7 linked regions of the Homo sapiens genome follow. The protein of the gene in region 1 interacts with the protein of each later gene in a pairwise test. Each region holds a gene or a part of one and is shown on either strand. Other genes may lie near its edges.

What was found.
Region 2: the proteins of FARS2 (region 1) and FHL5 interact in binary tests that used the Homo sapiens proteins (3 or more experiments, as listed by UniProt).
Region 3: the proteins of FARS2 (region 1) and MID2 interact in binary tests that used the Homo sapiens proteins (3 or more experiments, as listed by UniProt).
Region 4: the proteins of FARS2 (region 1) and ZNF438 interact in binary tests that used the Homo sapiens proteins (3 or more experiments, as listed by UniProt).
Region 5: the proteins of FARS2 (region 1) and HMBOX1 interact in binary tests that used the Homo sapiens proteins (3 or more experiments, as listed by UniProt).
Region 6: the proteins of FARS2 (region 1) and ZNF500 interact in binary tests that used the Homo sapiens proteins (3 or more experiments, as listed by UniProt).
Region 7: the proteins of FARS2 (region 1) and RIMBP3 interact in binary tests that used the Homo sapiens proteins (3 or more experiments, as listed by UniProt).

Annotation. Positions count from the first base shown.
Region 1 is NC_000006.12:5,361,944-5,366,156, forward strand, and holds part of FARS2 (phenylalanine--tRNA ligase, mitochondrial), read left to right. Parts: intron 1-4,213. UniProt on the Homo sapiens protein: Is responsible for the charging of tRNA(Phe) with phenylalanine in mitochondrial translation.
Region 2 is NC_000006.12:96,561,498-96,566,309, reverse strand, and holds the start of FHL5 (four and a half LIM domains protein 5), read right to left. Parts: upstream 3,183-4,812; 5' UTR 2,955-3,182; intron 1-2,954. UniProt on the Homo sapiens protein: May be involved in the regulation of spermatogenesis. Stimulates CREM transcriptional activity in a phosphorylation-independent manner.
Region 3 is NC_000023.11:107,838,845-107,843,057, forward strand, and holds part of MID2 (probable E3 ubiquitin-protein ligase MID2), read left to right. Parts: intron 1-1,825; coding exon 1,826-2,541; intron 2,542-4,213. UniProt on the Homo sapiens protein: E3 ubiquitin ligase that plays a role in microtubule stabilization. Mediates the 'Lys-48'-linked polyubiquitination of LRRK2 to drive its localization to microtubules and its proteasomal degradation in neurons.
Region 4 is NC_000010.11:30,846,614-30,850,826, forward strand, and holds part of ZNF438 (zinc finger protein 438), read right to left. Parts: intron 3,755-4,213; coding exon 1,918-3,754; intron 1-1,917. UniProt on the Homo sapiens protein: Isoform 1 acts as a transcriptional repressor.
Region 5 is NC_000008.11:29,015,665-29,019,877, reverse strand, and holds part of HMBOX1 (homeobox-containing protein 1), read right to left. Parts: intron 1,119-4,213; coding exon 965-1,118; exon of another isoform or gene 1-964. UniProt on the Homo sapiens protein: Binds directly to 5'-TTAGGG-3' repeats in telomeric DNA. Associates with the telomerase complex at sites of active telomere processing and positively regulates telomere elongation.
Region 6 is NC_000016.10:4,763,828-4,768,702, forward strand, and holds the start of ZNF500 (zinc finger protein 500), read right to left. Parts: upstream 3,336-4,875; 5' UTR 3,190-3,335; intron 2,250-3,189; 5' UTR 2,152-2,249; coding exon 1,738-2,151; intron 463-1,737; exon of another isoform or gene 1-462.
Region 7 is NC_000022.11:18,608,658-18,613,399, forward strand, and holds the start of RIMBP3 (RIMS-binding protein 3A), read right to left. Parts: upstream 3,263-4,742; 5' UTR 2,778-3,262; coding exon 1-2,777. UniProt on the Homo sapiens protein: Probable component of the manchette, a microtubule-based structure which plays a key role in sperm head morphogenesis during late stages of sperm development.

The sequences.
Region 1 (4,213 bases):
ATTCTAACAACAAACATTTATTCAGTATTTTACTAGTTGTTGTCATTGTGCCAAAGAATGCTTACAGCATTCTGAATGTGTCCAAAATGAAAAACAAGCAAAATAATCCAAATGTGATCCATGACCATGTAACAGATGCTTCAGATACCTTTCGAAATGTTACTTCTTAGAGCAGTCTTGTAGAGAAGTGGACTTGACCACCATGCCCACTGTTTGGACATTCCAGGCAGCTGTATTCCAATAGTAATGATAGAAATAATAATAATAATGATAATTGCTGCCATTTATTGAGTACCTGTTATATTCCTTCAAGATACTGTGCTGTTTTTTACCTTCATTGTTGTTTAATACTCTTATTACCAATGCAAGGTATATGTTATTTTCACGTTGAGAAATATAGGGAAAGTAAGATTCAGAGAGAGAGCGAGAGTTCTCCTAGTTCATCCTTGTCACAAATCACAGGATTTACTTCTGTCTAAAGGCTGAATAATATTCTATTGTATACATACATCACATTTTCTTTATACACTCATCTGTTGATGGACATTTAGGTGGATCCCATATCTTGGCCATTGTGAATAATGCTGCAGTGAACAAGGGGGTGCAGATGTCTCTTTGACATGCTGATTTCATTTCCTGTGTTATATACACAGAAGTGGGATTGCTGGATCATATGTTAATAGTTCTATTTTTAAATTTTTTTGAACCTCCATACTATTTCCCATAATGGTTATACTCCTCTAAATTCCCACCAACAGTGTACAGTGGTTCCTTTTTCTCCACATCCTCACCAACACTTACCTTTTCTTTTTGGTAATAGCGGTTCTAACAGGTGTAAAGTGTATCTATCTCATTGTGCTTTTGATTTGCATTTCTCTGATGACTAGTGATTTTGAGGATTTTTTTTCACATACCTATTGACCATTTATATGTCTTCTTTTCAGAAATCTTTATTCAGATCCTTTGCCCATTTTTCTTTCTTTCTTTTTTTTTTTTTTTTTGACATGGAGTCTCACTCTGTCGCCCAGGCTGGAGTGCAGTGGCGCGATCTCGGCCCACTGCAAGCTCTGCCTCCTGGGTTCACACCATTCTCCTGCCTCAGCCTCCCAAGTAGCTGGGACTACAGGTGCCCGCCACCATGCTTGGCTAATTTTTTATATTTTTAGTAGAGATGGGGTTTCACCGTGTTAGCCAGGATGGTCTCGTTCTCCTGCCCTCATGCTCCACCCACCTCGGCCTCCCAAAGTGCTGGGATTACAGGCATGAGCCACCTCGCCCAGCCCCTTTGCCCATTTTTAAGTTATTTGCTTTCTTGCTGTTGAGTTGCGTGAGTTCCTTATGTATTTTGGACATTAGCTTTTTCCCAGATACATGGCTTGTAAATACTTTTTCCCATTCTGTGAGTTGTCTCTTCACTCTATTGAGTTTTTAAATAGTTCTTTACTGCCCCTTCCAAAGAGGCAGCCTTCTTTGTTTTGTTTTTGCTGACCAATTTCCTTCCATTCTTTTCTTTTTCTTCCTATTTCTCTTCTTCCCGCGTCTTCCACCCAGCATCACATGTAGTGCTAGATTATGGGCATACGATGATAAATATAAGAGAGAGAGGAGAGAAAGAGTATGTGTATATATATGTGTTTGTGTGTTCTACTCTCAAGAACCACACAGGCTAGTAGGAATACAGACAACAGCAGGTAGTAATAATACGGCATGCTAAACATTGCACATTGAGTGGTATTTGGGTCCAGGAAACAGGCCCGTTTCCTTCTAGATGTCTTTTCCCCTGACTTCTGTGCTGTGGCACCCTTTACGTCCCCTCTGTCTTACTCCTTACATCCCCTTCCCTTAAATATGATAAGTTCCAAGTATTCTTCTATCTTTTGCCCACTTATATCTTGCTCTTAGCCTCCCATGGATTCTTATATACGCTTGTGATATTAACTCTTACGTCTATGCAAATTACCTCCAAGGTCTACATTTCCAGGATTAATGTCTTACCTCATTTCCAAACTATAATATAACTCGAATTGCCTTACAGAAATTGTAATGTGGCTATCTCATTCATACTGAACTTCCATTGTCCAAATCTGTTTCCCTCTACAAAAGATGATCTGAACAAACAACAAAAATCCATTCTGAGTTCTCTGTGTCAGTGAATGACTTTATTAGTTCATCCGTTACCCGATCTCTAGAAATCTCTGGGTCACTTTTAACCCTGAATTCAGCTCATCTTACCCGTTACACACTGGGCAATGAGTTAATTAGCTGATGAACATGATCTAGTATAATCTTTTCATTATGAGATAAGTATTATATTTCTCTGTTTTACAGATGAGAACCTTGAGGCCAGAAGGGTCAAATAACGTTTCTAAGGATGATACATGGCACCTAAGAGATCAACCTAGGATCAAACCAACATTAGTATCTCTGCGAAGTCTGGCCTATTGCCCATTATATTGTATTTTCTCTTCTTATAGTTGGTCTGATTGTTTCTTTTGTACCAGTGCTAACATACTTCACGTCCACATTTGTATTCTTGCTCCTTTTTTGTGACTTTATAATCTACATATATTTGTGACTAGGAAGATTTTATTAATAGTGTAGAAAAATTTTTCAGTAGGTTAAGCTAAAACAGGGCTCAGCAAACTCTATAACAGACCAGAGAGTGAGTATTTAGGCTTTGTGAGCAACACAATCTCTATAGCAGCTATTCAATCTTACCTTGATAGCAAGAAAGCCATGGCAAATGATAAATCAAGAAATGGCTGTTGCTGTGTTCCAACAAACTTTATTTGTAAAAACAGACTATGGGCAAGGCACGATGGCTTAAGCCTGTAATCCCAGCACTTTGGGAGGCTGAGGTGGGCAGCTCACTTGAGGCAGGAGTTTGAGACCAGCCTGGGCAATGTGGCGAAACCTCATCTCTACAAAAAATACAAAAGCTAGCCGGGCATAGTGGCTTGCACCTGTAGTCCTAGCTATCTCTGGGGCAGGGAGCCACTGGAGCCTGAGACAGGAGGATCACTTGAGTCTGGGAGGTTGATGCTCCAGTAAGCCATGATCATCCCACTGCACTCCAGCCTGGGTGACAGAGTAAGACCCTGTCTCAGAAACAAAAAAAAGCCAAAGCCAAAAAAAAAAACCCCAAACAGACTACTGTGGGCAGATTTGGCCCTTGGGTCTGTAAATACTTATTTCATTTTTACTATCTAAGCTAATGTGTTTTATTGGATTTACTTATTCATGCATTTATTTATGTATTTAAAAACACATTGATGTATAATCTCAATTAGATAAAATAGAAGTTAAGGGAGGTCCTTGCAGAGATACCATTTGAACTTAACAATCTTGGACCTTTGATTGAGAAGTATACTTTCTTTTTTTTTTTTTTTTTTTTTTTTTTTTTAGTGAGGCAGAGTCTCACTCTGTCACCCAAGCTGGAGTGCAGTGGTGCAATCCTGGCTTACTGAAGCCTGAACTCCTGGGTTCATGCAGTCCTCCTGCCTTAGCTCCCCAGTAGCTGGGACTGCAGGTGTGTGCCACCATACCCGGCTAATTTATTAAATAAAATTTTTTTTTTTTTTTTTTTTTTGTAGAGATAGGGTCTTGTCATGTTGCCCAGGCTGCTCTCAAACTCCTGGGCCCAAGTGATCCTTTCGCCTTGGCCTTCCAGAGTGTTAGGATCATAGGCGTGAGCCACCACACCCTACTGAGAAATGCACTTGACCCCTGGACAACTGATTACCCTCCCTCAGTCAGTTGAAAATTCCTGTATACCTTTTGACTTCCCCTAACTTAACTATTAATTGTTAACTGGAGGCTTTACTGATAACATAAACAATTGATTAACACATATTTTGTATGTTATAGGCATTATATACTGTATTACAATAAACTAGAGAAAAGAAAATGTTATTAAGAAAATCATGAGGAAAGAAAATGTATTTACTATTTATTAAGTGGAAGTAGATCATCCTAAAGATCTTTATTCTTATCTTCATGTTGAGTAGGCTGAAGAGGAAGAGGAGGGGTTGGTCTTGCCTTCTCAGGGGTGGCAGAGGTAGAAGAGATAGGGGAGGCGGAAGGGGAGGCAGGAAGGGCAGGCACACTCAGTGTAACTGTTACTGAAAAGAATCTGCATGTAAGTGGATCTGCACAGTTCAATCCATGTTGTTTGAGGGTCAGCTATATTTGAATTGCCAAGAATTCTGAACTG
Region 2 (4,812 bases), about 91 Mb from region 1:
ATGAATGAGCTTGGAGGACATTATTTTAAGTGAAATAAGCTAGACACAGAAAGATAAATACTGCATGTCCTCATGAATATGAAGAAGCTAAAAAAGTCAATCTCATAGAAGGAGAGAGCAGAATAGTGCTTACTGGAAGCAGAAAAGGGTAGGGGGAAGAAAGAGATAGCCAAAGGTAGGTTAAGAAATACAAAATACAGCTAGATAGGAGGAATAAGTTTGAGTGTTCTATAGCACTATAGGGTAACTATAATTAGCAATTTATTGTATATTTTCAAATAGCTAGAAGAGTGGATTGTAAATGTTCCCAACACAAAGAAATGAAAAATAAGGTAATAAATATGCTATTTACCCTGATTTGATAATTTGTCATATACATGTATACAAATATCACATTGTACCTGATGGATATGTACAGTTACATGTCTATAGTAATACTAATAAAAGCAAAAAAGAAAAAATTTAAGAAGAAAAAAATCTTAGAAGTCATGTGACTTATGACATGTTACTTAAATTGTTTTATGAATAATTGTAAGAGATAGTTAAACAAAATCAAGCTGGAGAACAAGCCCAAGAAGCATATTTCTCCACTCCACTTCCACACCACCATCTTTAGAGCATTATAATTGCAATGATATTGGAAAAATACAAAAAGGTATATTTTTAAATGGGAGGAGACAACCTGAATATATCAAAATAATCTACTCAGGATCCATTTGGTGAGTATTCCTTTGGCAAAATGAATATGCAAAGGAATCGCTCAAAGCTTTGCTAAAAATCAAGTGAGATAAATTTAAGGTCCATTGGTGCTGGAAGTATAACCGAAGAATTTGAGAAGACAAAAAATAAAAATGACTACTGTTATTATTATTCTAATATAAAATTCTATAACACAGCTGTTTTAATTATATCTTTAAGGTAGGGAGGCAAACTCACTTGCCCTCATTCATAGAAAACTCAGTATGAATGACACTTCAAAACCTTGACTCTGTTCTCCACATCACACTATTGTTTTCAAAGAGACTCTCTAGCTTTATTTATTTAATGAATGTAAACCTTGCTGTTGACATATCCTAGTATGTTCTAATCAGGGTAATTAGCCCATGTGAAAGTTTAGACATATGGTGAGGATAAGGTAAACCCAAACCCATAAGAATGTTTTACTAGTTCATATAAAATACTAGGGTATGTCATCAATAAGCTGATTATTTATTTTTATTTTAAATAGAGTCTCCCTATATTGCCCCAGCTGGTCTTGAACCCTGGGCTCAAGTGATCCCCACGACCTTGGCCTCCCAAAGCTAGGATTACAGAAGTGAGCCACCGTGCCTGGCCTCAAGCTGATTATTTTGCAGGGATTTGAGGCATGTTGGGCAAAAAGGAGTCCTCCTTCTCCTCCTCTTCCTCTACCTCTTTCTTCTCTTCCTCTCCTTCAATGAGCTTTCAGGGTACCAAAAAGTAACCAAGAAAAATTATGGTAATTGGAGAGGAAAAAGATAATTACAAGAACAAGGAAATGCAAGCTGGTTTAACTAATATCTGATTCAGAGCTTCCCATGCGAACCCAAGTATTCAGCTTTCATTTCTAAAGAGATCATGTTCCCTCGATTGAAAAAATAAAAACAGACAAATTAAATATCTGTCTCTAAATATTCTCTAAATCTCTAAATTTTCTAAACTCTTATTTGTAATATTATAGTAGAAAAGTACCCAGTCTTATGTAAGAAACACAGATTAATTCAGCTTTACTCAAAATGTTGGTAAGTGTAATAAAAATAAGAGGTAAATTTGTCAGTGAGGTGGTGTTATATTAAAACACAAATCTACTACTCTTGCTTAGGTAGAACAGTCCCAGATTTGGCAACTAATAATAATGTGAGAATAAATAGAACAAGTGTAGAAAACAGACACTAGAGTTTACCTTCCCCTTAAAGCAATTTGGATTATGGCTTAAAGCATATATCATAACACATATGTTAAGAAATATCTTGTATGATACATATGTTTGCAATACCTATGTTAAATTTTAATCCATATGCTTTGCTAATAAAAATGCTAGTATTTACACATGATGGTATTGTGGATATAAAATGAGGGCTAAAATGGCTCAAGGATTTCCTTACATTTTATGTATGAGAGCTATGCATTTTGTTAATAATTCTTTTTAGTTTCCAATTTTCTAAAGTCTGAAATGACAGCTGAGGAGCTGCATTTGGTTTTCAAATGAATGATAGGTACCAAAGAGGATATGACTAAAATAGTGAGAGAGAAAGCATTAACACATATGGGATGTATGCTTTTTGCCTGAATAACACTACCTCTGTTTCAAGAAGTAGCACTTTAGATTGATATAGTCTATTATATATTTCTGTGGGCTGGAAACACAGATATTTTAATTTAACCTTAGAAAATTAAAGATTATGAATTTTTGTATGCCCACTTCTGGAAAGTAGGCAGATTTTTCTTGAAAATAGCAGGAATCTCATTAACTCCTTTTACTTAAAACCTGTAAGTGACTTCAAAATGTGCTCTTGAAATATAAATCTAGTCATAAAATATGCTCAGTGATAATGTTATTCATTCAAATAAATTAAGCCAAATAAAATCTCAAGAGCCCTCCTCTTCTTCCTCTTTTTACAACAATAAAGCTATACCCCACATTAAGACCATTAGAAAAACTCAAGAGGCAATTCCAAGGAGTTATCTGGCCCCTATGTTACCTCCACATGCAAGTTATAAGAATGAGAAATCTGAAAAGCTCAGCATATAAAATTTGATAACCTTTAGCTAAAATGGCTAAGAAACTTCAAAAGGCATACACTTTTGCCAAGCAAAAGTTTTCTCTTAAGTAGTTACTGGAAAGTTTATAAAAATTTCTCATCCTTAAAAAAAAATTAGAGAAGTCAAAATACCACAAAACAAAACAAAGGAAATATTTGGGGGAAAGAACTCACTTTGTCTTAAAGCCGCTTCTTCCTGTGATTTAAACAGTACGAAAGGAGAATATATGTTGATTATTTTTCCTCCAATCCACATGCATGTCAACTCCAAAAGGAACAGAAAGTCACCAGCACCATCTGAAGATCCCTTCCAACTGCATGCAGCTTTTTCAACTTTGCAGGAGAAAACAGAAGGGTCCCTGCATTTCCTCCAAGTCTTATACCGTGTACATGACTCCTACTGGGCTGAAAAAGCACTATTTGTCAATTTTTACTTAAAACTATGAGTAACAAATTCTCTGCAGGACATCCTTAAAGGGAAATTCTGCCAGGATTAGCATTCGAAGTATCTGGCTAAGCTCCAAAAAGTTTAAAATACACAATGTTCACACAGACGCATACACACTTGAGAAATTTCCACTAACTAGGCTAAATTAAGGGCATATTTATAAAAATAATACTCTAAAAGGATGATGTATTTTCTGTTTCCTCAATCTGTTTTTGGCTTTGTTTTCTTTGTTTTCTGGTGGTGATCAGAACCCTTCTTTTAGGTTAGAAATGTCTGAACCGCTGAGCTTTTCTTTTGGACATTGTCTCTTAGAATCTCCTTTTGAGGCCATCTGGAAAGGGATGAGGTCCCATGCTCTTACCTGCAAAATTATTGGTACCTTAAGAGATGGCCCCCTGGATTGTGGCCTCTATCTCTCCCTTCTTGGGAAATTGGGGAACTCTGAGACATAAGTTTGAGTAGAATACTCAAGGTAGTTCCCTGCTCTCTGGACTTGCAGTGTGGACTCAGCCTTCCCCGCTCTGCCTGCTTCCTGGTGAGCTGGCCACAATTGTGACATCACATCCATGGCTCTATGACTTCATAAAGCATAAACTCATTGAGTCTTTTGAAATCTTCAAAACACAAAAAGTGGACAGAGATGTCAAGAGTTGGATCTGAAGAAATTTTTGGATATTAAACCAATCCATAATAGGTATCCTCAGTGGGGCACACTGATTCATAAGGCAAGTGACATTTTCTCTTAGAATCTCCATTTGAGGCCATTTCTTCAGTTTGGAAGGCAGGATGAGAGAAGAAATTCTGCCTTAATCCCAGACCAAACTTAAACTGTCCTTGTTCTAACTGCTAAAGGAATGAAATGTTAATATCTTCTAAGGTCAAACTCGGGTATATACAGTCAAAGAACTTGAGCTAGAGAAATGCAGAGCCAGTTAACTGTATGTTTTGTTATTCACTTGACTTTAATGATTAAGACATTATGAAAATGAACATATGGCGACTAACAACAATAAATTTGGATTCAGCAAAAGGACACAAGTATATTTCATTAGTAATAGATTTTAATCCTTAGGACACCATTGCTAAACAGGTACTGCCTGTATTTTCCTTGTTTTATGGGCAAGGAAAGCAGTCCTTGAGATGTAAAAGTGCCTGGGACCATCACCCTCTTTATTTGCTCCCATGCTTCCTGAGAGGGTAATCTACATCCACCAAGTCATTCCAAACCTACTACATTCTGAGCCTTCTTCTCCCTCCCAACTTATTGCAATCTGTCTTTCACTTGAACCGCTCCAAAAAAGCTTCATTAAGATCATATACAACCTTGATTAGCAACCCAAAGAGTATGGTCTTCAGTCTTACCGAAAAATTCTCATCTCTGGCCATGTCTATTTCTTTCTGAAATTATCTTCCCTTGGTTTTGCTATGTTACACCCTTCTGATTTTCTGTTTGCTCTTAGCACCCTCACTTTCTCTCTATTCACCTCACTCTTCCCTAGAGCTTTATCTTCTGTTCAGTATGCTTCTCTGCAGACTTTCCATCACGTTCTTCATCAAAACAATGAACAATTTTATACAACATGA
Region 3 (4,213 bases), on another chromosome or scaffold:
TCCTGTAATCCCAGCACTTTGGGAGGCTGTGGTGGGCAGATTGCTTGAGCCCAGGAGTTCAAGATCAGCCTGGGCAACATGGCAAAACCACGTCTCTACAAAAAATATAAACAAAAATTAGCTGGGCTTGGTGGCATACCCCTGGAGTTCCAGGAGGCGGAGCCCAGGAGGCTGAAGCAGGAGGATCGCTTGAGCCCAGGAGGTGGACGTTGCAGTTAGCCAAGATTGTACCACTGCACTCCACCCTGAATGACAGAGGGACACCTTGTTAAAAAAAAAAGCAAGAAAGATGCCCTTTTTCTTTCCTATACATAGGATTAACATTTTCAGTCAGTAAGATATGTTTTATATTTTTCCTTAGTTAAAGACAACTTAGAATATTTATGTGTGTGTATTTTAATTAATGGAAGACTCTAGGCAATTAAGAATTAGGTACCTGTGTGTTCAGCACAGAAATGCCTGTGGAAAAATAGATAGAGTTACCAAGAGGTTGGTTTCTTGTCAGTTGGGTGGCTTTTTTTGTTTGTTTTGTTTGTTTTTTTTTTTTTTGGCAGTCTCACTCTGTCACCCAGGCAAGAGTGCAGTGGCATGATCTCGGCTTACTGCAACCTCCACCTCCCAGGTTCAAGCGATACTTCTGGTTCAGCCTCCCGAGTAGCTGGGACCACAGGCAAGCGCCACCACGCCCAGCTAATTTTTGCATTTTTAGTAGAGACAGGGTTTCACCATATTGGCCAGGAAGGTCTGGACCTCCTAACCTCGTGATCCACCCACCTTGGCCTCCCAAAGTGCTGGGATTACAGGCGTGAGCCACTGTGCCCGGCCGGGTGACCTCTTTTACTCACTGATGCTCACTAAATTGAAGGTTACCAGATCTTAAAATTTCTGGAACTTTGCTAATTTCTATCTAGATATTGATTTGCATCCTGTTATGTTTTAGAAAGTATGAAAAGACACATGGGAGGTGAGCTTCATAGCTGGCTTGTGCTAGTTCAGCAGGTGTTTAGTAATGAAACCAAACTGAAGCCACAAGGCAATATGACTTTATTATTGATCAGCAACTATTGCTGAGTAGGTTGAAAAGTTTGAAATCATTCCCCATTCAGCTTGATGAACTGAAGGGGTTTCTGAAGGTGAGGGAAGAAGATGAAAGTGAAAACTATCATCTTTTATCTCAAGTAACTCAGTTTACTAGGAATAGAATGGAACGGAAATTTCCATGTGTGATAATAAGAAGTAATTCAAGTTCACACTCTGAGGAAAAACTTATTATCCTGCACCAAGGGCTACATTTTTCTAAAGCTCTCTCTTTTTTATGCAGGCTTTCAGAATGGAATCATTTCAGGAAGTAGAGAGTTACTTTAAAATATGGCATTGTTTTCCTTACACTGGATGTCACATAGAAGCAGCCCTACAGTTTACCTTGAAGTGAAATAGAGAACAATATTGGAGAATAGAGATTGGGAATTTTGCAGGGTCTCAGCCTTATCTTAGTCTAGGAAAAGAGATGTCAGTGGAGAATATGTGAGAGAATGATCCATGCAAATATTGTGAGCTGGAATGGTAATGTTAATCAGTCTATCAGGATTCAGAGGTGGCCATTTGGTTTTATCTATTTGTGCATGAAAATAAACATAGGCATTTGTCTAAAACAAGGTTTGAAGGGGAAGAAAGTCTTCCTGATTAGTTCCCAAATTGCTTTTCTATTGCTTAAGCATCTCTGGGGAATCCAGCACGTAAACGCGCCCATTGGTTAGTGTATAATTGTGTTATATCCATTTTCCTTTGGAAATGCCTAATGACTCTTGCTTTGTATTCCTTGCAGGTGAAAGCCCAGCCTCCGTGGTTCTTAATGCCTCAGGAGGACTATTTTCACTAAAGATGGAAACACTGGAGTCTGAATTGACCTGTCCAATCTGCCTAGAGTTGTTTGAAGACCCCCTTCTGCTCCCTTGTGCTCACAGCCTCTGCTTCAGCTGTGCCCATCGCATTTTGGTATCAAGCTGCAGCTCTGGTGAATCCATTGAACCCATTACTGCTTTCCAGTGTCCTACCTGCAGGTATGTTATCTCGCTGAACCACCGGGGCCTGGATGGCCTCAAGAGGAATGTGACTCTGCAGAACATTATTGATCGCTTCCAGAAGGCTTCAGTCAGTGGGCCCAATTCCCCTAGTGAGAGCCGCCGGGAAAGGACTTACAGGCCCACCACTGCCATGTCTAGCGAGCGAATTGCTTGCCAATTCTGTGAGCAGGACCCGCCAAGGGATGCAGTAAAAACATGCATCACCTGTGAGGTCTCCTACTGTGACCGTTGCCTGCGGGCCACGCACCCCAACAAGAAACCTTTCACCAGCCACCGCCTGGTGGAACCAGTGCCAGACACACATCTTCGAGGGATCACCTGCCTGGACCATGAGAATGAGAAAGTGAACATGTACTGTGTATCTGATGACCAATTGATCTGTGCCTTATGCAAACTGGTGGGTCGTCACCGAGACCATCAGGTCGCATCCCTGAATGATCGATTTGAGAAACTCAAGGTAAGGGATCTGGGGAGCATCCCCTATACAACTTTGTCGCATAAATGCAGTTAGCAAGTTCTCTAATAAAATAGGTGACTTTTCCTATATGACAAGTGAGTTAACTTTAAGTTGTTCTCATGAGGAATAACCTGCTCTCCTGCAAGCTCTTCCTGGAGCCTATCTCATCTGTTGCATAAACATTCTTGCAGTCACACACTTCTGGCTAACTTTTGGGGAGTCAGCTCATGGCCTGCAACACCAGTAGTTCATCCAGGGAAACACACCCTCTATCTTCTGTCAGTGACATATTGCTTATTATATATCTTTGCTATGATCTTTCCACCTCTTCTTTTAAGTATGTGAGTACTTGTGTACGTGTACTACAATTAGCATATGTGTCGATTTGCATATGTAGGTATATGGCAATGGGAAGGCAGGGTGTGTCTCTGTGTAGGTGTGGGTGGAGGTGGCTGAGTGTATCTAGGTAGGTGAGAGATTTTTGTGGAGGACATTATTGTATGTTTGTGTTTGTGTACTCAATACACTAAAGAAACAAAAGTTTGGCATTGGCCATTACAAATTGCCATTAAGCCTTTAACATAGGGCTAATTCTAAGCCTGCCTTTAAAAACAAAACAAAACAAAACAAAACAAAGAACTGAAGAAACTTCAGTATACCACGAAATTGGGAGGGATAATTAAATATCTGAATGAACAATTTAAACTGAAGGCAATAAATATTTTATCCAGTATCAAATTTTGTGACAGTGCTCACTATTATGGGCTACAAACTGAAGCATTTGTTTATAGTTCCTGCCTTACAAGTTCCTAGTCATTTATGTGTATTCAATGGACAGAGTTTTCTAAAGTTGTTGTGTCATATAATATGTATGTACAAGTCTAAGTGCCCATAAAAAGTCCTCCTACCTTACACTGATGATCCAGCGAATTGTTTTATTCCCATTGCTTGTCTGCTATGTTGTATAATTTCTCTTAAGAAGGGAGCTACTTAGCAGATATTCTAGAAAAATAAAATGTTTAAACGGATAGTAAAATTACCACTCCAAATAGAACCTGAGTACATAAGCCAAGCTAGAAGAAAGACCCAGATAGGATAAAAGGAGGGCAAGAAGGGAATGGAGATTTTCCTCCTGCCATGCAGTGGATGATTCATTGTAACTTCTGTAAAAAGTATAATGTTGGTGAGAGTAGCAGTACTCAGAATAGGATATATTTGTCCTGTAATTTGTTGCAAATAATATTGAGAGTAGTCACAATGACTATGGTTTGTGCCTCTTTTGGTTATTATTTATACCTGATATGTATAAATGTGTAGCAAATTCAATTTTTTTATTTCACTCAAGTTGATACTCTCATTCATATCAAGGCTGCAGAGGGAAATAATCTTGTTAACTTCAGTTCTTAGACTCATAAGATATTAGGCCTTTGACTTGGTCTAGTCGAAGCGCTCTACTTTAAAGTTGTATAAACAGACCTTGATAGATGAAGTGACTTGGTCAAAATCAAAGAAATGATTAGTAATGGGAAAGCTAGAACTGGGACTTAGCCTCTAGATTGAGTAACTATCCTTTGTACTGTAGCCGGCTGCCACTTTGTTTTGGATCTAAGTTTTCCCCATGAAATGTGATTTGAAACTTAACTTTATGCTCCCACAACTGTACATTTCGTGG
Region 4 (4,213 bases), on another chromosome or scaffold:
ACGGTGTGGGAGCTTACCAGGCACAACTGCCTGCAGCTGCCCAAGCTGCAGCTGTGACCCAGGCACCCCTGTGCTCTTGGAAGCTGGGAGCAGGCAGGAGCGCTCCTGCCCTCCCAGGCATCACTGTAGCTACCCTGCTGTGGCTGCAGATCCAGGCATCTCTGCACTCTCAGGGGTCCAGGAAGGCCCCTTTCCCCCCACGGGCTCAAGAAGCACCTGCTCCTGCTGCCTGGCTTCTCCCTGCTGTCAGCACCTGCTCCAATCTCAAAGCAAGGCTGGGGCTGAGCCTGGGCTCTGCTGTAACCTGGTTGGGTGTGCACACGCTTGAGGCAGTGCTGATATGCCCACCTCCTACCCCATTGGCCTGCTCCAGACTTTGGGTGCCAATAAGCATGGAAGGGAGGCTGAGGAAGGGGTGCTCAGGACAGCTCGGTGCCAGCCTGCAGGTGCCCCCTCAGCATGAACAGCCTGGGTGCCATAAACAGAAGCAGGGAGCAAAGAAGCTCCTGGGCAGAAAAGGGGAGGTCCCCGGTGAAGCCCCACCTTCAAGCCAGAGAAGCCCTGAAGCCTGGGGGCCAGGTTGCCAGTCATGTGGACTGGAGTGGGAACTTGTGGTGCTTTTCTGGGTCTGTCCATGACTGCCCATGGACCAACTGCACGCATTTCCTCTCCTCTGAGGCACATAAAAGCCCCGGACTTAGCCAGACTTGAAGAGACAATGGGACGACCAGTGGCAGAGAGGAGCTACCCTCTCTGCTGAGAGCACAAGAGATGACGGGGAAAACCTGCCTGCAGAGAGGAACTGCCCCCTGCAGTTCAACTCTGAGCTGTTCTATCACTCAATAAAGCTCCTCTTCATCTTGCTCACCCTCTACTTCTCTGTGTACCTCATTCTTCCTGAACGCAGGACAAGAACTTGAGACCTGCCAAATGGTGGGGCTAAGAGAGCTGTAACACAAACAGGCTGAAACACGCCTCTTGCTTGCCACACAGCAGGTGAAGAGAAGAGCTGCGGCCCTTTGGGGAGCTCTGTCCTGGGAGCCCCCTGAGCCAGGGCAGTGACTCCCTAGTCTCCAAGCTTCTGGGCAACATCATGTTCCTGGTGCCAACCGTGGAAGCTGCTTGTGATGTGCCTGGTCCAGCCACAGCCTTGCAAGGAGGTGGCACCTGGAGCTGCCTGGCCTGCAGCAGCAGCCGGCGTGCCTGCCTATGCGCAGTGGCCAGACCCCACGCTCACTCACACATCCCTCACCACTCTGTGCCTGGCTCGCCCTTGGCAGGCATGGGATCTAGGCCGGTAGCATGAGCTGAGTGCAGCCTGCTAGGTTCCAAGTGGGTGGAACGAGCCTAATGGGCCAGAGCAAAACTCAGGCCAAGGCGCCACTGGCCACAGAGGTTTCCGGCTGGTGAAATGACACCCCAAGGATCCCATAGCAATAATACCAGGAAGCAGTGCTTGCAAAAAGGAATGACACCAGAAAGAGTGAACCCGAACTGATGGGAAAAACAGGGCAAATGAAGAGGGTGGGGTCTGGGCACCTTAAGGTAGGGTCAACATGACAGACCCACCCACTCTGAGTCCCCAACCATGGGTCATGCCGCATTTTGGGGCAAATGATGCTGTTTAAAATAACGCAAATTCTGTGGATGTGATTTTGGGGGAAATTACTTGTAAAGACCACTGGAACTATATACAGTACTTTACTAGATTGGTTAGGGTAATTCCAAGTATGGATGATCAGAAACCAGAGAGAAACAAGATCATTCTTCACAGATCTAGGAGGTATACATAGCTACTTTATGAAATCTTAATCCTAGAGATGTTTTATAAACTCTCCTTTCTGAATATGAAATCTTCCCCTCTTCCCCAAATCAAAACAGACTCTCTTGCCAGGTCTCCATTACATTGGCACTCACCTCTCCAATGATCCCTCCATGCCTCGCACACTCATGTCTCTGTTCTTTGGTATGTCTCCTGGCTGCAGTTCACTGGGCGCAGGCTCAGTGCTGATCACAACCCTATGCACTTCTTTCAGATGGCCAAAATAGACTCGGATGTGGCCAAACACTTTTGCACAAAACTCACAACACATGAGTTTCTTCAGACGGTTCTCACCATGATGAAGTTTCATGTGTGTGCTCAGGCTGCCAGGACGTACATAGGACTTGCGACAAATCCGACAACTGTAAGGGCGTCTGTTGGTGTGTGTATTCATGTGGTCTCGAAGGTGCTGTTTGAACTGGAAGTGGTGGTTGCAGACGTGACATCTGTGCCAAGGCTTCTTAATGCCAGAGAATCCATTTCTGAACACGGAGCTGGGCTTAGGGGAAGAGCTGTTGTCTTGCTTACAGCCAAGATATTTAGGAGTGAGTGAATTATTTAACAAAACATCCTGTCCTAGGCCCCCAAGCATCTGGGACTGTAGTGTAGTTGGAGAAGCCAGGGAGGCCAAAGTGGGTATGACCATGATAGGTTTGGGCATAATGCTACGGTATTTTTTCAGGGTCCCCAGCTTTTGGTCTCTGAATTCTTGGGGATCATTTTTTACTCTTTCTTTACCATCTCTACACTTATTAATGATATATTTCCTCCTTTTTCCCTGAAATGCCAAAATTTCATCTGGTACCTTCCGTTTTCTTCCTTTTCTCTTTGCTGCTCCACTGTTCAGTTTTGTTTTGTGGTTAAGATCAAGTTTGGTGGGTGGACAAAAGGCACTTTCACAGGCACTCTGCTGTGACACTTGTGGAACAGGTAGCCTGCTTGCCACCTTGGTGGCTGCATTAAAGCCTTCTGTGGTGGAGGGTATCTTATCACAGTCGGCCTTAGGTCCTGGTAAAGAAAAACCTGCAATGTTAGCATCTGATTTGATTTTGTAAACCTCCATTGTCTTCATTCTTGAGTAGGGTGGGATTGGCAGTTTCCCTTTGGGGACTGAAGAGATCAACTGAACTGCATTGCCAAGAATGGTTGGTGATAAATTGGTCATGGTTTTTGCAAGATCAACTTGTTCTTTAAATTTTTCACTGGCAACAGCAGAAGGTTTACTAGATGTTATCTTGCTTACAAAGTGTGCTTTCCCTGAAAGAGCTGTGAGGTCCTGCTTGGCAGGCTCCTCTGGTGTGGATGATGCTGGGGTAGCAGGAGGGTTCAGACTGCCATGGGTGTTGGTCACTGGTGGTCTCAAGTCCCCATGGTCACTTCCATTGGTCAGCGCAGCTGTGCTAATGCTGGCTGGGGCTTGCTCTAGTGATGGTACTTCCTCAAATGGACTGGGTTTGTACAGGAGTTCAGGGTGGTGAGGTGGGGAAGGGGACATCTGAGGACACATTTGGGTTTGGGCAGGAGCTTTGCTACAGCCACTCTTAGGAAAGATCAGGATGGGTTTCTTTCTTGATGCTTTGCTATTTCTAGGGGGTTGATATCTAGGAATAGGAAGTTTCAGGTTTTCAGGTAGGGACATTCTGGGTTTCTGAATTGGCTGAGCTGAGGCAACATGTGGCAGAGCAACAAGAGAAAATGTCCCCTCCTGGCCAGCAACCTGCATCAGGGCATAGTTCTGGGTGGACATCCCCAGCAGCTTGGAGTTGATGGAGGGTCCCAGATTCACCTGATCAGAGCGTGATGGTGAATGACATGGCAGCATTCTGGACGTTAGGACTTTGGGCACAATTTTTGGTGCAATGGTCCTAAACTGACTCTTATTCTGCAAACCTTTCCTACTCTGTATTGTTCCAGAAGGGATGTTTGATTCACCTGCAATGACAATAAAATATAAAGAGTTACTGTATGTAACTGTTCTGTTAGTGATACTTCAAACAACAAGCATCTTATTTACTCTGCCCAGAACAGATTCCTTGACCTACCTCCAAGCCTTCTGGGCAAAATCTTGTGTCCCTCAAGACCAGCTTGAAGATCAATTCCTGCCTACCTTCCCCAAGGATTTCTATACTTATCTATGGTTCCTTAGCTCCTATTATGTTATTTACCATTTTCCATAATAATTTATGTGTTTATGTGTATCTCTACTAGTCAACACTGCTTGACAGCGAAAATTCCGTCCTTCTCATCCATGTATTCTGCAAGTCCATCCTCTCCATTTAACCTATCCCCACTCATCTTCACATGATGTCTGGTATGTTCTGCTATGTAGTTTATTATTTTATATACATGTTCTGCTTTCCCTATTAAGCTTCAGCTTTGTGAGGGTACAGC
Region 5 (4,213 bases), on another chromosome or scaffold:
AATTTCGGCATTTTAAATCTCCCTCTCTTTCAGGTAGTGAAGTTCATGAGCTGGGAAATAATCAGAAAGTAGCAGGATGAGAGATGGCAAAAGTCTTAGATGACATATTGGCTATCAAAAAATTTCATTTTAGACATGAAGTTACAGCTGAGAGTTTGTGACCTAAACAAAGTTAGTTGGGTATAGGTCTTCTGACTCTGAGTCCAGTGCTCTGTCCAATATACCAATTCTACTAGTCAGGTCAGATAAGAAAAATGTACAGCTGGAACATTATTACCTAATTGCATATAAACAAAATTCCATTGAAACAAAATTCTGTAAACATCACTTACAAGTAGATGACTAAAAAGATAATTCTACTATAGGATCTATGCTAAGTATGCCAAACATTTCACAATCATAATTAATTTATACCATTTCAGATAGGAAAATTGAAGCTACGGTCAAATTCAGGTTAAAAAAAAAACCACTGAGTGCCTACTATGGATCAGGTACTGGTGACAGAATGAGAGGATAAATTACTAAAACAAAGTCAAAAATAAGTATTTTTAACCTTTGGGACAAAGCTTACTTAGACCATACTCCTTATTAAAGGAAAGTTAAATCTCAGTAGTCTCCTATACAATTATTCATTATTTTTGATGAAAAGAAGACTTCAAAGAGTTTTTCCAAAATATAATACAAAGATCTGAATTCAAAAAATATTTATTCCAACATTTCTTAAATTACTGGGGACACTATTATAAGTAAAATAAATTGACAGATGCTAACTCCAGCTTTATGAATTCTCAATGCTAAGATGACCTTATTTCTATAATACAGCATTTATGATATTCTAAAGTACTTTTAGAGATAGAACCAAGATACCAAGTTACTTGTTTGAAATGAAAACTGTCCCAGTCTATCCAGAGTTGATGTCTTCCCTAAGTTTGGGAGATCATTCGTAGAAAAAGGAGACACATACCTTTCCATAACAGCCAGGCACTCCTTTCTCCAGGTAAATCGACTCCCTCGTCGCAGTCGGAAAGTACCAGATGTGGCAGAGACTGGGGGAGGCGTTTGTCTCCATTCAGGGTCCTCTATTGGAATGGGGGCTGGTCTCATACTTAGTGTAGCGCCTGAAATAAACAAGACACTTTTAGCAAATATCTTGCAGTTTATTTAAAACAATATAACATCTACTTCCTATGGGACTAGGGAAGTATGGTCTTTGGCTTAGTGACAACTTAATCAATGTATCTTTCTCTGAAAAATTTCTTTTGAAATTCCTGCTTGATAGTTATACTCTTTTTGAACAATATACCTCAGATGTTCAGAATCTTTTACTAACCATTCAAATAAGTTATAAGCTTAAGGAATTTATGCAGGTAGGAGACAAACTTAAAATAACCCTAATTCTTGTAAACTCTTTTCTTTTTTAAAGAGTGAAATACAGCATGAAAGAAAATAAGATGATATTTGATATGCTTTTTGTCTACTAACTAAATCAGGTCTCCATAGGTCTACCTGTTGATGCTATACTAGATTCTGTTACCTCCTGAACATAATAAAATTTCAATGAAAAATATCTATAATTGAGACATTTTACTAATTCAGATTACTCTTTTCTCAAATAGCTTGAACTGCCAATGATGCATTTATTCATTCATTCACTATTTAACAAATCCCTTTCAAGTGGCTTGCTCTAGGCTAGAAGCTAAGAATAAAACCAGGAAAGCAACATTGTCTGTGACCTCCATGAACTTATTTCATAGACTTTCAATGTAACTTGGTATGCTTTCATAGAGTTCAGTCCCTGGCTACCCCACTCTTCTTTCACTCCTTACACTGTTAAATTCATCTTCCCAAAACATAATTATGATCATATCGGTCTTCTAATCAAAAACCTTCAAAAAATTCTCTCTGCCTGTAGTTTAATTCAAATGCTTAACACAGGTGTAGAAAGACATGTTAGAACATGTAGGTTTATGCAATATTAATAAATATGTTAATTCTATGTTAATGATATTAATATTTATTTCTTCCTAATAGAATTAATACTCTCTTTATTGTACCTTGCAAATAATACCATGGATAGCATTTCTACTTCAAGACTTACAGATCTATTGTAGATCCCCTTCTTAATAGCTACATCTTTAGATGTATTCTCTTACACAGATGTCCAAAATGTTAATCAATCCTGATTTTGCTTTTCAAACCTATTGTCCTGCAGTCTTTCCCATCTCAGTAAATAGATACCCACTCTTCAAACCACTCAGCTCAAAATTCTCAAATTAATCTTTCACTTCTCTAATTATCCCACCTATACATAACTAATTCATAGGCAAGTTCATTTTATCTTCAAAATATTTCCAGTATCAGATCAATTTTTATTCCTTGCACTGCTACTACTTTTAGAACACGTCAGCATCATCTTTCACAATCATGGTTTCCTGGGACAAGTTTCAAAGACGGCTCCTCACAGTAAGTCATACCTCTGGCTAATCATGCCCTTGAATCTGGGCCAGTCCTGTGACAGGTTGTTGAGCAAGAAAATCTAAACAATTCAAGGCTAGGTTATAAGATGCTTTGAAATTTCTGCCTAGGTCTCCTAAAATGCTGGCTCTGGGGGAAACCAGAGGCCATATAAGAAGTCTGACTAACCTGAGACTATGATGTTGTAAGGAAGCCCAGGATAGCCATGTGGAGAGGCTACATGGAGTGAAAGATGCTCTGACAGTCCCCAGGGTCTTCTGCCAACTCCACCCAGGTGCCAGCATTTGAGAGAAAATGCCATCTTGGACACTGTAGCCACAGCAAATGCCACATGGAGAAGTGCAGAAACCAGGTGATAGACAGAAACAAGGCCTCAGACATTCAGTCCCAGCACAGGAATGTGGACATCAACCTCCAAGGTCCCTAAGGATCCCTGCCTCCTGGTCTGCACACCTCCGTATAGTCCCTTCCCACACTGCACCATGATTAGGCTGTGCGACCAACAGCATGTGGCAGTGATGGTATGTCACTTCAAGGATCAGAATACAGAAGACACTATGACATCTGTCTTGGATGCTTTCTCTCTTATTCACTCAAGGGAAAACTAGCTGCCGTGTGAGGACACTCAGGCAGTGGATGGTGAGGCCCATGTTGTGAGGAACTGATGTCTCTGACCAACAGGCAGTGAGGACCTGGGACCTGTCCACATCCACATGAGTGAGTTTCCAAGTGGACCATCCAGTCCCAATGACTGCAGCCCAGGCTGACAGCTGGACAGCAACCTCTACAGAACTCTGAGCCAGAAACAACCAGCTAAGCCATTCCTGGATTCCTGATCTATGAAAACTATGAGATAATAAATGCTGGTTGTGTTAAGCTGCTAAATTGTGGATAATTTATTGTATAAGAATAGATAACTAATAAAAATTATCACAATCATCCTCAGTTGTTTATTTCCCTTTATCCCCCAATACACTATTATTAATTATTCAAATGTATAAATTTGGCAGCAAAAAATTTCCCTTTAATATAGAGACTTCACTACTAATAAGAATGAGCATCTTTTCCTGTTTATTGACCATTTATATCTTTTCTTGTGAATTTCTATCTGTTGTTCCTTTTTTAGGGGGTTATTCTTCTTATGGGTGCAGAGAAATCATAGCAATTGCTAGTCATACAGAATGCAATTTTTTTCTGGTCTGTCATTTGTTTTTTATAGTGTGCTTTGTGATCTTAATTTTAATACAGTCAAATTTGTCAGTCTTTTGTATTATGGCCAATGGGCTTGAATATCACTGAGTATCTTTATATCTTTCATTTTGTGTTTCAGCCTTTAATATGTATGTGATTTCTTATAGCATGTGATGGAAAGTAAATATTTAACTACTTAACATTTCTGCTTAAACAAGTAAGTTTGTCATCATATAATGCTTTAGAGATTTACAGCCCACCCTAAAACAGAGTTGGCAAATTATACCCACTGCCTATTTTTGTAAATAAAGTTTTATTGAAACATGCTCATGCTCATTCATTTACAGATTGTCTATGGCTATGAATGCACTGGAGCAGAAGAGCTGAGTAGCTATGATAGAGATCATATAACCTGCAAAACCTAAAATATTTACTGTCTGGCCCTTTATATGAAGTTTGCCAACCCCTGGTTTAAAAACATTTCTGCTCTACCCAACATGAAATTCTAAACTGAAACCCTTCTTTAAACAATTTAAAAGGGTTTCAT
Region 6 (4,875 bases), on another chromosome or scaffold:
CAGCTCACGCCGTGGTCAAGCATTAGGGGATGTGCCTCCTCTGTTGGCTGCAAAAGGCCAGCAGTGTGCAGCCAGCAGCACTGCCACAGGAAGAAAGGCAGCTGGTCAGCACTGCCCATGTGCCCCATCCACGCAAGGCCCTGAAAAATGAACTGAAACAGCAGGTGGCAGGACTTCTTTCTAATCTCAAGGAGTTCCACAACTGAAACTGAAGCAGCAGGAATGAGTAAGAGGCTTCCTCTACTCCTTCAAATGGGGCTGGAAGGAGGTGGAGAGGCACTGTCTATAGAGATTTCGGTGTGTCAGAAGGGTCCTGTCTGTGCCATCCAGTACAGTAGCCACTGGCCATGTGTGACGACTGAGCCCTTGAGAGGTGGTCAGTGTGACTGAGGAACTAATTTAACATTCTACACAGTGGCCGGGCACAGTGGCTCATGCCTGTAATCCCAGCACTTTGGGAGGCCAAGGCAGGCAGATCACTTGAGGCCAGGAGTTTGAGACCAGCCTAGCCAACATTGCAAAACCCTGTCTCTACTAAAAATACAAAAATCAGCCTGGCGTGGTGGCAGATCCCTGTAATGCCAGCTACTTGGGAGGCTGAGGCACGAGAATCACTCCAGCCTGGGCGACAGAGAGAGACTCTGTCTCACAAAAATAAAAGTAAAATAAATGGGCTAGGTGCGGTGGCTCACGCCTGTAATCCCAGCACTTTGGGAGGCCAAGGCAGGTGAATCACGAGGTCAGGAGATCCAGACCACCCTGGCTAACACGGTGAAACCCTGTCTCTACTAAAAATACAAAAAAATTAGCCGGGCGTGGTGGTGGGCGCCTGTAGTCCCAGCTGCTGAGGAGGCTGAGGCAGGAGAATGGCGTGAATCCGGGAGGCGGAGCTTGCAGTGAGCCGAGATTGCGCCACTGCTCTCCAGCCTGGGCGACAGGGCGAGACTCCATCTCAAAAAAAAAGAAAAAAAAAAAAAAAGTAAAATAAATGTACATAGCTATAATTTAAAAAGCTACATGTGGCTGGCAGCTACTGTTTTGCATGGCACAGCTCTAGAACCTCTGGGGGCTCTAACCAAAGTGCCCCCCATGCCCCTGGTCTTTCTTCCCAGTGTTCTCCCACTTTGGGGGTAGTTTCAACTCCCTGCCTTGGAAGGTGCCGGACCTCTCTCCCACCAAAACCTATGTTTGGGGCTGGCGTAGTGGCTCATGCCTGTAATCCCAGCACTTCGGGAGGCCAAGATGGGAGGATCACTTGAGGCCAGGAGTTCAAGACCAGTCTGGGCAACATAACGAAACCCTGTCTCTACAAAAAATACACAAAATTAGCAGGTGTAGTGGTGCATGCCTGTAGTCCCAGCTACTCAATAGGCTGAGGTGGGAGGATTGCTTGAAGCCTGGAGGTAGAGGCTGCAATGAGCGGTGATCACACCACCATAGCCTGGGCAACAGAGCGAGACTATGTCTCAAAAAAAAAAACATGTTTGGCCTACCCTAGGACAGTGTTCACAAACCATCTGCACTAGCTAATAAAGGGCTATTGGGGTAGGATGAGGTTAATCAAAGGGTGGACACCCATTAGCCAAGGCTGAGAAATCTTTTGCAGTTGCTTTCCTCAAAAGGGCTCAGGGGCCAGGCAGCCACACTTGGTCACCCAATGACCAAGGAATCTGCAGCTGCAGACCCCAGCAGCAGGGCCCCATTTCCTCACCTGAGGGTCAAAATGCCCCCACTCACCCGCTGCCTGTGTTTCCTGGGCTTCCGCTGCAGCCCTTCCACAAGGACCACGGCCTCCTCACCGCTCTCCGGCTGCTGCTCGCGTACCCGAGCCTGGATCTCCCCCGGCAGCACAGTCAGGAACTGCTCCAGCACCAGCAGCTCCAGGATCTGCTCCTTGGTGCGCAGCTCCGGCCGCAGCCAGCGGCAGCACAGCTCCCAGAGGCGGCTCAGGGCCTCCCGGGGCCCAGCCACCTCCTGGTAGCAGAAGAGCCGGAAGAGCTGGCGGAAAGTCTCAGGGCTGGGGTCCTCCGTCTCCACGGAGGGCTCCTCTTCCAAGCAGAAGTCCTCCTCCACCTTCACAATCAGGATCTCTTCCTGTTCCAGGTCCTGCTCCAAGGTTGGCAGGGGCTGGAGGCCAGGGACAGTGGCCATTGCTTCCGGTGGGCCTTGTTCCTTTTCAGGCCTTAGAGTTGAACCTGTCTCTCTCTATACCTCTGGCCAGACACAGGAAGAGAGTTTTTTTCAGGGCCCTGTGGAGAGACGATAAAACCATCTGAAGGGCAGCCCTGGGGCTGGATAAGCCCTTTGGCCTGGGAAGCCCCTGCCCTGGTTCCAAGGCCAGCTCACCCCACCATGGAAAAGGAAAAGGAAGTGGATGAATGTCATCTTTGTTATTAACCCCCTGTTAATTCCCGGGTAATTTACTGAAGGGCTCTGGGCTTTGCTTCCTCACTGGGCAAACAGAGATGATAACAGGACCTACACACACAGGTTGCTGACAGAACTAAAAGGGATGGCTGGGGGCAGTAGCTGACGCCTGTAATCCCCGCACTTTGGGAGGCAGAGGAGGGCAGATCACGTGAGTTCAGGAGTTGACCACCTGGTCAACGTGGTGGAACCCTGTCTCTACAAAAAATACAAAAATTAGCCCGACATGGTGGTAGCACATCTGTAATCCCAGCAACTCGGGAGGCTGAGACAGGAGAATCGCTTGAACCCGGGAGATGGAGGTTGCAGTGAACTGAGATAGCGCCACTGCACTCCAGCCTGGGCGACAGAGAGAGACTCAAACAAAAACAATCTAAAAGGGATGTTTGCGGTCAGAGCTCGAGAATCGTTATTTTCCATGATTAGAGTGGGTCCTATATGGAAGGGGTTCCTTTGGAAATCTGATGAAAAGTAGGGCCTTTCTGCAGACTCTGCCTCAACTTGATCCCCGGTGTCCAGGTCTGGCGAACCCTGAAGCCCCTACGCGGCCCCGTCAGGCACCCCCGCGTGGGTGGTCACGACAGCCCCCCAATTCCAGGGTCCTGGGAGAGCTGGGACCCCCAGGCCGGGCTGCTTTCCCGTCTCATCCCTCAGGTGGAGGGTGAGCGGTACCCGAGGCCGCGGCACAGACCCGGGTGCTGGCGCGGGCCGCGAAATCGAAGCTTCGGCCGGGACCCGCGTCCCCGCGCCCCCCGCACTCACTGGAAGCGCTGCCGGCCGTGGGCAGTTCGGGGCAGGACCGGAGCGGCGGGTCTCGGCGGGAGTAGGACTGCGGGCCTCAGGCTTGGCAGCCAGGGACGCCAGAGCCGGGGCCGAAGACCCTAAACCAGGGGTGCAAACCAGGCCGTGCGGGTGGGCCCGCAGGCGGCATTGTGGGTAACGTAGCCGTGGCACCATTGGCTAAGCCGGCCGTTGGGGGCGTGGCAACACGGCCGAGTGGGCGGGTCCGCGACGTGCACTGTGGTTAATGTGGTCCTCAAAGGCACGCATTGTGGGTAACGTAGTCCAGCACCTCGGTGACCGCGCGAGCGTGCGGCGACTCTGCAGCCTCTGGGCTACTTTCCCAGTCACTGTTCCACACCCGCTCCGCTCTCCTCTGGCCGCCTCCTCCATCTTTAAAGCCAGCAAAGTCGTCCGGGCACGGTGGCTCACACCTGTAATCCTAGCACTTTGGGAGGCCGACGCGGGCGGATCACCTGAGGTCGGGAGTTCGAGACCAGCCTGACTAACGTGGAGAAACCTGGGCGTGGTGGTTCATGCCTGTAATCCTAGCTACTCAGGAGGCTAAGGCGCAGGTTGCAGTGAGCCGACATCCTGCCATTGTCCTCCAGCCTGGGCAACAAGAGCGAAACTCCATCTCAAAAAATAAATAAATAAATAATAAATAAATAAAATAAATAAAGGCAGAAGTTGTTCAAGATAAAACTGGAAGAGATGCCAAGTGCTTGCGCCCACCCTCCCCCAAGAGGGCCCCCAACAACGTCCAACCCCAAATATCCCTTGTCCTGCCTGCTTCTTTCTGACAACATAATAATGGGCATCAATCTTTGTTGTTGTTGTTAGAGATGAAGTCCCACCATGGTGCCTAGGCTGGTCTCAAACTCCTGGGCCCAAGCAATCTTCCCGCCTCAGCTTCCCAAAGTGTCAGGATTACAGGTGTGCCCAGCCAGGTATCAATTCTTGTATGTATGTATTTATTTATTTAGAGACAGGGTCTCACTCTGTCGCCCAGGCTAGAGTGCAGTGGCTCGACCTTGGCTCACAGCAACCTCCGCCGCCCGGTTTTAAGCAATTCTCCTACCTAACCTCCCGAATAGTTGGGATTACAGGCACGAACCACCAGGTCCGGCTAATTTTTGTATTTTTAGTAGAGATGGGGTTTCCCCATGTTGCCCAGGCTGGTCTCCAACGGCCTCAAGCAATCCACCCACGTCAGCCTCCCAAAGTGCTGAGATTACAGGAGTAAGCCACCGCTCCCGGTCGCATCAATTCTTGAGCATCAAGCAAGCAAAACACATTTGTACTTCGTTTCTTCCTCATTTAGTAATAGAGGTACTATAACTAGACCTACCGGTTCAACAAAACAAAACAAAACCCTGAAGCTCTGAGAGTTTTAAGTATTGAACCCCCCAGAGAAGGTCAAACAGGAAGTACAGAAATGGGATTGGAACCCAAATCTTTGATTCCAGAACTTCAGCTCCTAACTACCAGGTTAACGTAGTTTGCCCCTAATCCTAACTTGGGCATCCTAAGGCCCGTCTCCTATGCTGGATTCTCGCTGCTTTTCCTCTTTGGTTGAACATGATCCGGAGTTTCCCTCTGCCTGGGGTGCCCAGGAAAGAGTCCCAGCACCGAGTTCGGGTGAGCAGCAACGCAGCATACACAGCA
Region 7 (4,742 bases), on another chromosome or scaffold:
AGAGCTTCATCCTGCCCCGCTGGGAGTTGACTGGGGCCAAGATCAGGGGATTTGGCAGGCAGGCAGCCTGGGATGTAGCTGTCCGGAATCTGCTCCACGAAGTTGGAGGGCACCAGCCCCCGCCGGCCATCCTCAAGCTCCCCCTCATAGAAGCCATCCTCATCCATGTCCCCGAAGATATATATGTAGTCCCCAGCTGTGAGGGGCAGCTCACCCTCAGGGTGATCATTGGGCCCCTCAAATGGGTTGTAGTTATACTGAGCCATGAAGATCTTGAGCTTGGGGGCAGCAGGAGCCGCCGAGCCCCCCATTTCCAGGGCCAGGGACACGCTGTCAGGCTCCAGGTCATCCACCTCACTGGCTGTGTCCCTGTCCAGAGTAGGGGAGGACGGCACGGTGGCCCACATCGACCCCTCAGAGGAGGAGTTTGACTGGGAGCTGGTTTTCTTGGACAGAGGTTGGCTGGCAGGGACTGTCTCTGAAACTTGGGGGACACTGGCTGACTCCCCAAGGGCAACTGGGCTCTCCTCGAGGGAGGCTTCCCTTTTCTCCTGTATGTCTCTGTTGGGCTGTGACACTGCGTAGTCTTCAGGCCGTGCGTGGAACTTGGGCCTTCTGCTACCTTTAACTTGGGACTCCGGCATTTGACTGGTCTCCCAGGGCTGTTCAGGAGGGTGACCAGGCCGACACTGGAGCGCCTGTATCTCCTTCCAGGAAGGATGGAGGTCACACAGGGCCTTCTGCGGGTCGCGTTGCAGCTGCTGCTGCCTGTCCTGCCCGCGCGCCGCCTGCTGCAGCAGCTGTTCGGCGATCAAGCCGGAGGCATCGCGCTCTTGACACGCGCGGCCCAGGTGGCCGCGCACTTCGCTATTCTCAGCCTCCACCTTCCGCACCCAGTCGGTCTTGGCCTGCAGCCGCCCATTCTCCTCCGCCAGCCAGGCGTTTTTGAGCAGCGCCGCCTGCAGCTGTGTCTCGGCCTCCTCGCCACGTCGCCGCGCCGGGGCCGCCTGCGCGCCCAGCTCCTGGCACTCGCGCCGCCGCTGGTCCAGCTCGCGCTCCAGCGCCAGCATCTGCCGTCGCACCTCCTCGCAGGTTGCGCTCTGGCCGCCCGCCTCGGGCCAAGCGCCACCGTTGCCCTGCTGAAGCATCAACTGCCTCTGCAGGCGCAGCACTTCCCGCTGGGACTCGCGCTGCAGGCGGTCTAAGTCTCTGACGTTGAGCCACTGGGTGCAGGGGCCGCCCCTTCCAGTATGCAGGTCGCTGCAGGGACCCGAGGCGACACGCGCCTGCAGGAGGTGGCACTCCTGCCGCAGCTCTTCGATCTGCTTGTCCTTGGCCAGCGGCGCGCTCGCCTGCTCCGACAGGTCCCGAGCGCGCTGGCGGGCAAAGACTTGGCACAGCTCCAGGCCGGCGCAACTCTCGCCGGGTATAGGCGCGCTCACGGCCCGGAGGTTGGTCTCCTGCAGCTTGCGGGCGCGGTCAGCTAGGCGCCGCGCGAGCCCGGTCAGCTCCGCGCGCTTTACCTTGAGCCGCTTCACCTTCTCGTCTGCCTGGTAGGGGCAGCCTGCACGCCGCAGCTGCTTGTTCTCCGCTTGCAGGGTATAACAGCGGCGCGCCAGCACCCACAACGCCTTGGCCAGCAGCCAGTTCAGCTTTATCAGCTCGTGGTGGCCCAGGCCCGGGGGTGAGGGAGTCAGGACTTCGCAGGGCTGGCTCTCAGAGCCTTCTCCTCCCCGCGGGTTGCTGAGTTTCCTGTGGGCTGACGGTGGTGGTGGCGGCGGGAGTGGCGATGGTGGCGGCGAGAGCCTCCGGGAGCCAGGGGTGGAGGTGTCTGGTGAGGAGGGCCGCTCCTCGGATTTGGAGGCCTTGGGGAGGCTCCGGGTGCTGTCAAGCGAGCGGGAACACGCAGGTGCGAAGCAATCAAGGGAGCTGGCGTGCGTGGAGAGCAGGCCGTCTGGGGAGCTGGAGCACGCAGAGGACACCAGGCCTAGCGAGCGGGAGCGCACACCGACTTCAGCACTCAGGCTGTCTAGAGATCCGAGTTGGCAGGCGGGTTTGGGGGCGTGGCAAGAGCCGCTGGAGGTCTGGGGCAGCGGTTCTTCCAAGGAATGCACAGCTTGGGGGTCCGGTGATCCCGACAAAGCCGGGTGCCCGCGGAAGTGCGCCAGGATGTACTTGAGGAAGAGCTGGCGCTCCACCTCCAGCGCCGCCTGCAGATAGCGGATGCGCGCCGCCTGCTCGCCGTCAGTCTGCCAGCGAAGCTGCGCCAACACTTCCTGCAGGCGACAGCGGCACTGCGCCGCGGAAACCTCGGACGCCCCCGGGCGGCTACAGTGGCCGCGGTTCACCAGCTCCTCGGCCAGCTGGCGCTGCAGCTCCCGGGCTTGGCGCACCACGCCATCGCGCTCCCGGTGCAGCAGCTGCTGCAGCTGCCGCTGCTCGGCCTCCTTCCAGCGCAGCAGCTGCCGGATCTCGGCCTCGCGTTCCCGCTGCATCTCCTCTTGCAGCTGCCGCAACTCCCGGCTGCGCTGTGCCTCCCACTTGGAGCGCAGACGGTCAGCCAGCTGTCGCCGCTCCCGCTCGGCCTCCTCACGCAGCTGGCGCTCCCGGGCAGCGAAGCGCCGCCGTTCCGCCCGCCAGCCTGCCCGCTCCGCCTCCAGCTCCGCCCGTAGCTTCTCCAGCTCCCGCCTCTGGTTCTCCAGCACTGCCGCCGCCGGGCTGGAGCAGCCCGGCTTCTTGGGCGACGCGCCCAAGGGGCTGGGCGAGTCCTTGGCCATTGCGGCCGCGGCCCGGCTGGTCTCCAGACTTCGCCTGGCAGGCCTCAGCTCGCCAACGGCCGCCGCCGACCGCCCGGCGCGCCCCTTCCGGCGCCCCCTGGGGGTCTCCGCGTGCCCCTTCCGCCTCTTGGCATGTTCCCCCGCCTCCTGCCGCGGATGTCTGGCCCAGGCGCCTCTCCACCTGGCAAGGCCAGGGCTGGACTCCCACACCCCTGCTCAAACTGGCCCATGTCCCTTCCAGGATGCACGGGGGCTTTTCCGGTCCCTACACTTTTCCTGCTTCTAGCACCAAGTCCCTTGTGACCCTCCCCAGGCACCCTCCCAGGCACTGTGCAGTCCCAAGCAGGCCGCGGTGCCCCGAGGGAAGTCTGGGCTGCTGCTCCTGTACTTGGAGAAAGGGGCAGGGTGTGTGTGTTAAGGCCACCCATGGGGTGTGGGCATACCTGGTCGTGGGTTCAGGTGGTGTATTTGGGTCAGGTGGCTGGAAAATGCAGCAGGATAGGCCTCAACTTGGCTAGACCTGGACTCCCCAGGACCCTTCAGCCCCCTAACAGCCCTGATCACCCAACTGGTCATCCACCTTTTGAGGAAAGGATGTGCCTGATACACATTTGTGTTACTGCGCAGAGTCGGCTCAGAGGAGGTGTAAGCGAAAAGACCCTCCCCAGCAAGGTGGCATAGGGACCCAGGGCCAGATAGGCATGAGGGGCACTGCCCAAACTGGCCATCTGGCCTGTCTACCTCCCACATCCAGGTACCACCTGGTGACAAACACTGGAGCCCCAGTGTCTGGGCTACTCATTGGCATCTTAGGTAGAGGCCTCAGGATGGGCCAGGAGTGAGGGTGAGGCTTCAGCAGAAATGTTGGAGGCATCCTGAGCTGCAGAAGAAACACACACACACACACACACACACACACACACACACACACAGCTGCAGAAGAAACATACACACACACACATACTGAGCTGAAGGAATACACACATACACTGAGCTGCAGAAGAAACATACATACACACACTGAACTGAAGAAATACACACACACACACACACACACACACACACTGCCTCTCTGACTGGTGGCCACCTGTGTGGCTTGGGAGCTAAGAAGCCCTGCTTCAGTCTGGCTCCTCTTTGCCCTTCCTGTCTGCTCCTGGTGCCAAGTGGCTTTTGGGAGACATGGATGGACACCTGATACCTGGCAGTCTGCATCGAGACATTGATTTTTTTTTTTTTGAGATGGGGCCCCACTCTGTCGCCAGGCTGGAGTGCAGTGGCGCAATCTTGGCTCATTGCAACCTCTACCTTCCACGTTCAAGAGATTCTCCTGCCTCAGCCTCCCAAGTAGCTGGGATTACAGGCTTGAGCCACCATGCCCAGCTAATTTTTTGTACTTTTTAGTAGAGACAGGGTTTCAGTATGTTGGCCAGGATGGTCTTGAACTTCTGACCTCAAGTGATCCACCCGCCTCGGCCTCTTAAAGTGCTGCGATTACAGGCATGAGCCACTGTGCCCGACAAGACCTTGATATTGAAGTCACATCAGAGGCCCCTTTGCTTCTTGGTCTGTCGTGTCTCCCTGTCCCCAGGAAGCACCTGGGACCTCTCACAACTGCTGTGTTCACTCAGCTTATGGCCCTCCTTTACAACACTCAAGTTTTTCAAATCAGTTTCCCCGGAACCCACAGAACATGCCTTTAGGCAGTGTCAAGTAACAAGAACATCGGGAATTATGGCTCCAGATGTTCTTTTTTTTTTTTTTTTTTTTGAGATGGAGTCTCGCTCTGTCGCCCAGGCTGGAATGCAGTGGCGCAATCTCTGCTCACTGCAAGCTCCGCCTCCTGAGTTCACGCCATTCTCCTGCCTCAGCCTCTCAAGTAGCTGGGACTACAGGTGCCCGCCACCATGCCTGGCTAATTTTTTTTGTATTTTCAGTAGAGATGGTCTCGATCTCCTGACCTTGTGA